Homo sapiens: one gene and its partners. The protein of the gene in region 1 interacts with the protein of each later gene in a biochemical or structural test. Each region holds a gene or a part of one and is shown in the gene's direction. Other genes may lie near its edges.

Region 1 (3,655 bases):
GAGGTGCCCTCCATGTGTGGAGCCCCACAGCTCTGGAGAAGCGAGGGCATCCTGGGAAGCCTTGGCCCAGAACTTGTGCCCGTCCTTGTTCCACACAGGTCTTGCCAGATGGCACCTACGTCAAACTCGGTACAGCACAGAGCAACTACCTTCCCATGGTGGTGGTGCGGGTGGAGCTGCTGTCAGGGGAGATCCTCCCTATACTGCAGAAGGCCTGTGTCATCGCCATGCGCTACTCGGTCATCCGCCGCCAATCCCGGCTCCGGCCCAGGCAAGGGGTGCCCAGTGACTGACTACCGCAGATATGCTGCCTCTTGGTCCCACAGTGCCTCCCCCTGACACCACCCTTCTGCCAGAGCCAGAGTGCTGGGAGCAGGCAATGCCCCCCACCACATACACACACACAAACACAAAATCTACCCAGCCTGGCCCCATCTGGGCATGTCAGAGGAGTCTCTCTGGCTGCCTCTAACAGGGCTGACCAGCCGGCCTAACCTGCATCCTCAGTGCCTGGCCCCCATCGGGCTCTATGTGATAGTGTCTTTGGCCCTGTAGCACCAGGTCTGTCTGACTCTGTGTCTGTCCGAGTCCAGCCGTGTTCTGTGCGGCTGTGACGGGTTGGACGGGTCTGGGTCAGCCAGTTGCCAGCTGCATCAGACTATGGCTGGCTGAGTTGATTCTGTCAGGCCGAGCCTAGCAAAATCCAATATCATATCGACTGTGTGTGGCTGAGCTCGTTCTGTCCAGCTGTGCTGTCAGCATCCCACTGGTATGTCTAGTCTGGATCCCTTTTGTTGTAATTGGTTGTGTTGCTACCACTCCCTCCACCCCACAGCACAGAATAGCAAGGGCTGCCTGAACCCTCTGTGAACACTCAGCTCGGCCATTTCACTTCATCCCTCAGCTTCCTCAGCTACAAAATGGGTGTGGCAGAAGTGGCCTTTCAGTGTGGTGTGGAGGGTGAAATGCAGTAAGGCACATTAAGTCCTCAGCCCAGGGTCCTTTCCTCTGGCAAGCTCACAGCGCCCTCGCCTGGCCTGGGCTTCAGAATCTGGGCTGCAAGAGTTCTCTGGAGGACAGGGCCACTGGGAAGAAGGGGCTTCTGCTGCTGTCCTGCCCGAGGCCCATTTATCTGGGCTGCAGAAGTGTCCCCAGGGTGGTTATAAGAAAGATGCGCCAGGTAAGCAGCTGCTGTCTGTAGAGGAGGCTTCTTGTAATCACATCCTCTTTCAATCCAGTTACTGCGAGCTCCTAAATGCCGGACATAGCCTTGGGCACTGAGGACATAGCAGCGGATAAGGCAGACACAGTCCCTTCCTTGGGGTTCCATCAGACCTGAGTTTACATCCTAAGAGTTATTGTTTAGGCTTGACATATTCCTCAGCGCGCGGCAAGTGCACACGGGCAGTGGAAGGTCACAGGTTCAAATCATCACAGGTGCAGGGCCACAACTCTTCACCTGAAATCTTGGGACCAGACGTGTTGGAGTCTCAGAACTTTTCAGGTTTTAGGATAATACTGTGTATATGCTGGAATTCTATAAGCCTCCCTTAACAAGGGGCAGTACCCACCAACAAATGTGTCAGTATTCCTGCAGTGAAATGTGTGGATGTTCATGTTAGATGGGATTTTTAAAGGATTATCAATGGCCTCATGTCAGTTCAAGTTTTGCAATGAGTTCTAAGGAACTGTCTGTTTTTAAGGTTTTTATGGTGTCGGGGATAGGGGAAGGTGGACACAACAGGTAGTGATCTAAATCTTCTGGTTCTTTTCCCTTCAGTGACCCAGAGGCAAAGGTCCTGGACTACCAGACACAACAGCAGAAACTCTTTCCTCAGCTGGCCATCAGTTATGCCTTCCATTTCCTGGCAGTCAGCCTCTTGGAGTTCTTCCAGCACTCCTACACTGCCATTCTGAACCAAGACTTCAGCTTCCTGCCTGAGGTACCTGCTGTCTGCGGAGGGGCAGGCGCTGGCAGGCGCTGGGAGCTAAGATTGTTCCACTCACTGGGGAGCAGCCACAGCCCCATCCCCATGGGCACTCCCCACCCCCACCTCTCCCAGCTTTCAGCATCCCAGGGCGTCTGGGTGAACGGCACCCTGGTATATAAATTTACCCACAACCAGCCCCCAGAGAGCTACAAACATACTAAGAGAAAACAATCACACCTAGCGTAGAGAACACAGGTCCACAACCCCTGATGTGTATTTGAAACCTGAAAAGCTCCGAAAAACAGTTGTTTGGAACTCATTTGGTGGCATAGTTTGACCTGAACTGACCTGATTTATCCCTCTGAGTGTGAATACATTTTGCAGTAAAATTATTAATGTGTTTAATCACTAAAGCTGCCCCAAACCCCACTGGGGCTATTATATAAAATGCACTTTAAATGCCACTTGGCCTCTCTATAATCCAAAAGTTACTCTGATTCCTAAACACATCTGGCTCACAGGTCTCAGGTAAAGCATTGTGGACTTACATATATAGTAAAATTCAGTCTGTCCAGGCTACCATGCTTTATAAGCACTGCTCATTAACCCTTCCAACTGCAATGAGGCACAGAGAGATCAAGGGACATAACTTTCCTCCCAAGGACTTGAAAGCTCCAAAGATAGGCAGGGTCTTCAAGAACCAAAATCTGAAAGCAGTCCTGCTGCCCAGCAGCCTCTGTCCTGTTGGGGCCACTGTAACAAAATACCATAAAGCAGTGGTTTATAAACAACAGAAATTGGCCTGGCATGGTGACTTACACCTGTAATCTCAGCACTTTGGGAGGCCAGGGCAGGAGGATTGCTTGAGCCCAGGAGTTCAAGACAAGACCAGCCTGAGCAAGATGGTGAGACCCCCGTCTCCACAAAAAAAAAAAAAAATGAAAAATTAGTCAGGTGTGGTAGCACACACCTGTAGTCCCAACTACTACTTTGGAGGCTGAGGTGGGAGGATTCCTTGAGCCCAGGAGTGCAAGGATGCAGTGAGCTGTGATTGTGCCACTGCACTCCAGTCCAGCCTGAGCAGCAGAGTGAGACGCTGTCTCAAAAAAGAAAAACAAACAAATTTATTGCTCACAGTTCTGGAGGCTGGGAAGTCCAAGGTCAAGGCACTAGTGCATTTGGTGTCAGGTGAGGGCCTGCTTCCTGAACGGCTTTTTGCTGTGTCCTCAAATGGTAGAAGCAGCCTCTTTCTTTCTTTTTTTTTTTTTTCCTGAGACAGTCTCACTCTGTCACCCAGGCTGGAGTGCAGTGGTACAATCTTGGCTCACTGCAACCTCCGCCTCCCAGGTTCAAGAGATTCTCCTGCCTCAGCCTCCTGTGTAGCTGGGACTACAAGTGCACGCCACCACGCCCAGCTAATTTTTGTATTTTTAGTAGAGACGGGGTTTCACTATGTTGGCCAGGATGGCCTCGATCTCCTGACCTCGTGATCCACCTGCCTTGGCCTCCCAAAGTGCTGGGATTGCAGGTGTGAGCCACCACACCCAGCCAGAAGCAGCCTCTTTCATGAGGGCACTGATCCCATTCATGAGGCCTCCACCCTCATGACTTAATTACCTCCTGAAGGCCCCAACTCCTACTACCATCATAATACCTCCTAATCCTAGTCCTAATCATCAATACCTCCTAATCCTAGCCCTAACCCTTGAGGGTTAGGATTTCTA
Region 2 (3,655 bases), on another chromosome or scaffold:
CAAAAAATAACTCATGTGAGTGGTGGTTTGATGAAAGAAATTTGTGTCATTCAGCATGTAATAGAATCAGAACTGAACACTAAACCATAAATTAAAAAAATACAGTGGGTCAGAGTAGTAGTACAGTTTGAAGACAGTAATACCTGGAATTGAGCATCATGTCTGTCATTCTTAAATTTGCATGCATCTTTCTAACAGGGGAGGTAGACATGTAGCAGTAAAAATAGTTAAAAATGTGGATAGATACTGTGAAGCTGCTCGCTCAGAAATACAAGTTCTGGAACATCTGAATACAACAGACCCCAACAGTACTTTGTAAGTATCAGATTAGAACTTGGGAAGTGGTATCAGGTATATTTAAATTAGGAGCAACTATACTTAGCTATTTTTCATGTGTTTGTAGCCGCTGTGTCCAGATGTTGGAATGGTTTGAGCATCATGGTCACATTTGCATTGTTTTTGAACTATTGGGACTTAGTACTTACGACTTCATTAAAGAAAATGGTTTTCTACCATTTCGACTGGATCATATCAGAAAGATGGCATATCAGATATGCAAGTCTGTGAATTGTAAGTTCTTGGTATATCTTCGTTAATTTGCTGGTTTTATCCATTCCACATATCAAAATGTGCATCCTAAGTGTGTACAATTTTTATTTGATTAAAAATAAAGGGGGAGGAAGAATAGGTATGAAGAGATTTGATTACAGGCTGTTGATCCAGCAGTGTACATTTCATTCAGCAAGTAGGATATCCACCATATAACAACGTACTTTGTTGCAGACTATGATTTAGACTTTTCTGATGCGCAAAAATAGTAACTTCGAATGCTGGGTAAAAATTAAGGCGTGATATATCTCATAAAAGAAAGCTTCATAAGAGGTAGTAAGTTTTAGTTACTGGTGATTTTCTAGCAGACTGGAATGTTGACCATTCTTTGGGAAAGGAATCAGAGGTTTTTTGTTGGGTTTTTTTGTTTTTTGAAATGGAGTCTCGCTTTGTTGTTCAGGCTGAAGTGCAGTGGCGCAGTCTTCACTCACTGCAAACTCTGCCTCCCCAGTTCAAGTGATTCTCCTGCCTCAGCCTCCCGAGTAGCTAGGACTACAGGCACACGCCACCACACCCGGCCAATTTTTGTAATTTTGGTAGAGACAGGGTTTCACCATATTGGTCAGGCTGGTCTCGAACTCCTGACCTCAGGTGATTACAGGCGTGAGCCACTGCACCCGGCCTGTTGTGGGGTTTTGTGATTTGGTTTGGTTTGGTGTTTTCTGATTACAGCAACTTTCTCTTTATTCTCAGTTTTGCACAGTAATAAGTTGACTCACACAGACTTAAAGCCTGAAAACATCTTATTTGTGCAGTCTGACTACACAGAGGCGTATAATCCCAAAATAGTAAGTCTTCCAAAATATTCATAAAGTATCTTATGCCTTAATAGCTTATGCCTTCTTAACCATCATTTATGATTTTCAGAAACGTGATGAACGCACCTTAATAAATCCAGATATTAAAGTTGTAGACTTTGGTAGTGCAACATATGATGACGAACATCACAGTACATTGGTATCTACAAGACATTATAGAGCACCTGAAGTTATTTTAGGTGAGTATTAATTGTCCTTTGAGAACCTTTGTATTTCCTTATTGAGACTTAAAATTTTTTTAGCAGTTTTAGGTCTTACTTGTGGGGCTTTATCATATTCTCTTTAAGGGATAAGTATCATGAAGTGCATTATGGATTTTAAGCTCTCAATTGTACCAGATAATTAGCTCTGGGAATTTGAGCAAGTGGCTTAACCTTTCTGGAATTGTTTTCACATTTGTAATATGTGGTAGGGTTTTTAAATGTAATTGTTTAATGCCAGGTGGGGCGCGGTGGCTCACATCTGTAATCTCAGCACTTTGGGAGGCCAAGGGTGGGGCGCGGTGGCTCACATCTGTAATCCCAGCACTTTGGGAGGCCAAGGCGGGCAGACCACATGGTCAGGAAATCGAGACCATCCTGGCTAATATGGTGAAACCCCATCTCTACTAAAAATACAAAAAATTAGCTGGGTGTGGTGGTACACGTCAGTAGTTCCAGCTACTCAGGAGGCTGAGGCAGAATTGCTTGAACACCGGGAGGCGGAGGTTGCAGTGAGCCAAGATTGCGCCACTGCACTCCGGCCTGGGCGACAGAGCGAGACTCCATCTCAGAAAATTGTTTAATGCCTATTTTATTCCAGACTATATATAACACTATATAATTTATTTATTTTTATCATTTATTTATTTTTTAGACGGAGACTTACTCTGTCGCCCAGGCTGGAGTGCAGTGGTGCAATCTTGGCTCACTGCAACTTCTGCCTCCTGGGTTCAAGCAATTCTCCTGCCTCAGCCTCCTGAGTAGCTGGGATTATAGGCACCCACCACCACACCCGGTTAATTTTCTTATTTTTGGTAGAGATGGGGTTTTTACCATGTTGGCAGGCTGGTCTCAAACTGCTGACCTGGAGCAATCTGCCTGCCTTGGCTTTGCAAAGTGCTGGGATTACAGGCATAAGCCACTGCGCCCGGCCATATATATTGTATTTAACCTTGGATTAAGTGATTGCTTTAGGATCTTCCAGCTCAAACATCACATTGCATATATATGTGTATATATATAATTTTTTGGGGGGGGGGCGGAGTCTTGCTCTGTCACCCAGGCTAGAGTGCAGTGGCGCGATCTCGGCTCACCGCAAGCTCCGCCTATGGGGTTCACTCCATTGTCCCACCTCAGCCTCCTGAGTAGCTGGGACTACAGGTGCCTGCCACCATGCCTGGCTAATTTTGTTTTTGTATTTTTAGTAGAGACGGAGTTTCACCGTGTAGTCAGGATGGTCTTGATCTCCTGCCCTCGTGTTCCACCTGCCTCAGCCTCCCAAAGGGCTGGGATTATGCCTGTAGCGTGAGCCACTGTGCCCGGCCAATTCAGATATATATATATCTTAATAGAGGTGGGATCTCGCTGTGTTGCCCAGGCTGGTCTTGAACTCCTGAGCTCAAGCAGTTCTCCCATCTTGGCCTCCCAAAGTGCTGGGATTACAGGTGTGAGCCACTGTGCCCAGCCTACATTACATGTGTTTTTTTTTTTAAAGTATTAGTGTTAACTAACTTTTTAATTTCTTTAACAAACATTGAGTATTTTTTTTCCTTAAATTTTGCTTTGCTTTGCAGCCCTAGGGTGGTCCCAACCATGTGATGTCTGGAGCATAGGATGCATTCTTATTGAATACTATCTTGGGTTTACCGTATTTCCAGTAAGTGACAATGATCTATTTCAACCTTGCTTTGCACAAGAAAGGTGCCTGTTTATATGAATAAATACTTTTGCTTCCCCCATTATAGACTATTAATTGTAGATAAGCATAAATAAACTAATTCATATTTCTTTCATAATTGTTTTATTTAAAACATCTTTCAGTATATAAGCAATTATCCGTGTCCATGTAGGGAATCATTGGCGAGTTTGTTCTGCAAGCCTTAATGTTAGTTTTTTTGCTGTCAGCTTTAACTGTGTCTGTTTTGGTGGTCATCTTCCCCAAGTCTGTTTTTATTTTATTTCTAGACACACGATAGTAAGGAGCATTTAGCAATGATGGAAAGGATTCTTGGACCTCTACCAAAACAT
Region 3 (2,792 bases), on another chromosome or scaffold:
AATATGTCTTTCTTCTTAAACCCCCCATTGTAATTATTTAATTTTCATTTGTGACAAATAATTTGCATCTGATCATGACTTAGAATTTTGCTGGTAAGATTTAAGTGTTTTTGATTCTTTATCATTTTCACAATAATAATGAAAAAGGGCCTCATGTCTTTATTTTGTACAGTTTTATCTGAATTTATTCTTAACTGCATTTAGAAAGACCTCCACCTGTTGTTTTGCATCTTGTTTTCGTTCTGGTGTATTATTTTATGATGGTAACTACTCTCCAAAAACGGACTTTTTATTTGCATGTCCCAGATTTTGCAGCTTACTAGTGACTTCCCCTTTACCTCATTTCTTCTCTGCCTAGTGTAAAATGCCAGTTGACAAAGCTTTGCAGATAGTATCGTAACTCTTCTCTAAAGTGAGAAATCCTCAGCTGGAAGAGAATGGTGTCTTTCTGAAGTATTCTCTGCCATCTGGATTTTGGGATCCAGCTTTTGCTTACTGTCAGATACAGATTAATATTCATGATTATTAAGAATGAAATCGGGGAATAAATTAACATTTTCAAAATGCTTGAAAATGTTTTATCTAGTTGACATGTGGAATGACTCTGAGCTAAGTAAGAGTTATATTTGAATAGCAGGACTCCAAACAACATTTCCTTTATACATCATCACATTATTGAAGGATAACAAGAAATGCACTTTGCATAGCTAGGGACACTTTGTCTCATTACTATAAGCAGATCCTGTTGAGACATTCTGCCCCGTGGTGAGAAGTCAAGGTGTGGGAATACAAGCCTGTGATGACTTCCTAAAATAAGCTTATTTCCAGCGCAGATGAATTTGTAGACTTTCCTAGCTTCCCAGGTATCATGAACAGGAGATGGGAGCACAAACCTGATACCAAATGATTTTACTTGTGTCATACATGATCTTTATAATATGGAGAATTTGCCAGCAATTAATTCCGGAACCTGTTTGGAGGCCCTCAGCTTCTCTGCCTGCTGGTTGTCATCCTCACATCCCTGCTGTTCTGACGGTGCCACCTCTCAGTCCATCTCTCACGTGCTTTTCTTGTAGGGGTACCAGTTTGAGGAGGAGAACCCCTTGCGTGATCACCCTCAGCCTTTTGAAGAAGGGCTGCGGCGCCTTCAGGAGGGGGACCTGCCAAATGCTGTGCTGCTTTTTGAGGCAGCTGTGCAGCAGGATCCTAAGCACATGGAAGTGAGTGACTCCATAGTCTCATTTCTGGCTAGAGACTGCTTCCTCCATCTTGAGAAAGGCCCCAAGGAGAGTAGTGCAGATGGGTTAGGGCCTGGGTGATGGCCTAGGATAGGGGCTTGAGAGCGAGATGGTGAGTGGGAGAAGCCAGGGGGAAGGGCGAATGGAGAGGTGAATATGGGGTGATGGAATCTGTCAACTTCCCTCTAGGCTTGGCAGTATCTGGGTACCACCCAGGCAGAGAATGAACAAGAACTATTAGCCATCAGTGCATTGCGGAGGTGAGTACACTGAAAGGTGTGGGTGAGGTGCTTCCAAGGCTCTGCATATAACCTTTTGAATGACAGAAGCCCAGACCTGGATCCTTGTCTTCTTTCTGAGTGCTATCAAGAGTGTTTTCTCATGCTGAAACTCTGAGGGTTGGAGTGAATTCCATTCCTTCATCGGCTTTTGATTTTATTTGCGGCTTTGGTTGGCTCCTTGCCTGCTAAAACCTTCCCCTTAGATCTGTAACTTTATTATTAACTCATGTCAGAGGAGTCACAGGTGAGGCCATTGTGACTCTGCATTTCAAAGCTTGGCTTGGATCCCAGGGTGCTCACATGTGCCAGTGTCAGTCATTGCAGATATCAAGTCTGCCCATCCCTGATCAAACAGGTGTCTGGAGCTAAAGCCAGATAACCAGACAGCACTGATGGCGCTGGCTGTGAGCTTCACCAACGAGTCCCTGCAGCGACAGGCCTGTGAAACCCTACGAGACTGGCTGCGGTACACACCAGCCTATGCCCATCTGGTGACACCTGCTGAAGAAGGGGCTGGTGGGGCAGGACTGGGCCCCAGCAAGCGTATCCTGGGATCTCTCTTGTCTGAGTGAGTATGAGGGGTTCCTAGGATGAGGAATTACAGTAACCTAAGTCCCAGTAGGAGGGTGACCTTGGTTTTGGAAGTTTGGATGGATTGAGACTGAAGGGTCCTGAGAATGGGATGGGAAACCTAGGATCAAGTTGAAGGAGGTCTGCATTCTACAGTTCAGTGCTAGGATGAAATAGAAAAACAGGCTTCTATATTGGACTTTGAGAGTAGAAGAGATGACTGATAGATTGATGAATGTTGGGGATATGGTTGATCAATGAAGAAATTAATTTGGGGGGATGGGAATAGAGACATTCATCTACCTACTTTGTGTTTTTTTCCTTTTCATCCAGCTCCCTGTTTCTTGAAGTGAAAGAGCTCTTCCTGGCAGCTGTGCGGCTGGACCCTACCTCCATTGACCCTGATGTGCAGTGTGGCTTGGGAGTCCTTTTCAACCTGAGTGGGGAGTATGACAAGGCCGTGGACTGCTTCACAGCTGCCCTCAGCGTTCGTCCCAATGTGAGCCCAGGGGAGGAATGGAAATGGGACATGACTGTGTACCTTATTGAAGAGCCATTTGTTGGGAAGCTGGGTTTGATGGTGCATGCCTGTAGTCCCAGCTACTTGGGAGGCTGAAGTGGGAGGATCACTTGAGCCTGGGAGTTCAAATCCAGCCTGGGCAACATAGCAAGACCCTGCCCACCCCCACAAAAAAGAATAATT

Evidence for each region.
Region 2: of the proteins of ACOX2 (region 1) and CLK1, one has a biochemical effect on the other in vitro, tested with the Homo sapiens proteins (one large-scale study listed by BioGRID).
Region 3: the proteins of ACOX2 (region 1) and PEX5 interact in a test that uses a peptide from one of them, tested with the Homo sapiens proteins (one large-scale study listed by BioGRID).

The regions. Positions count from the first base shown.
Region 1 is NC_000003.12:58,527,082-58,530,736, reverse strand, and holds part of ACOX2 (peroxisomal acyl-coenzyme A oxidase 2), read left to right. Parts: intron 1-98; coding exon 99-271; intron 272-1,780; coding exon 1,781-1,943; intron 1,944-3,655. UniProt on the Homo sapiens protein: Oxidizes the CoA esters of the bile acid intermediates di- and tri-hydroxycholestanoic acids. Capable of oxidizing short as well as long chain 2-methyl branched fatty acids.
Region 2 is NC_000002.12:200,854,633-200,858,287, reverse strand, and holds part of CLK1 (dual specificity protein kinase CLK1), read left to right. Parts: intron 1-198; coding exon 199-315; intron 316-403; coding exon 404-570; intron 571-1,302; coding exon 1,303-1,397; intron 1,398-1,476; coding exon 1,477-1,606; intron 1,607-3,201; coding exon 3,202-3,284; intron 3,285-3,592; coding exon 3,593-3,655. UniProt on the Homo sapiens protein: Dual specificity kinase acting on both serine/threonine and tyrosine-containing substrates.
Region 3 is NC_000012.12:7,206,583-7,209,374, forward strand, and holds part of PEX5 (peroxisomal biogenesis factor 5), read left to right. Parts: intron 1-1,076; coding exon 1,077-1,220; intron 1,221-1,427; coding exon 1,428-1,498; intron 1,499-1,874; coding exon 1,875-2,087; intron 2,088-2,422; coding exon 2,423-2,588; intron 2,589-2,792.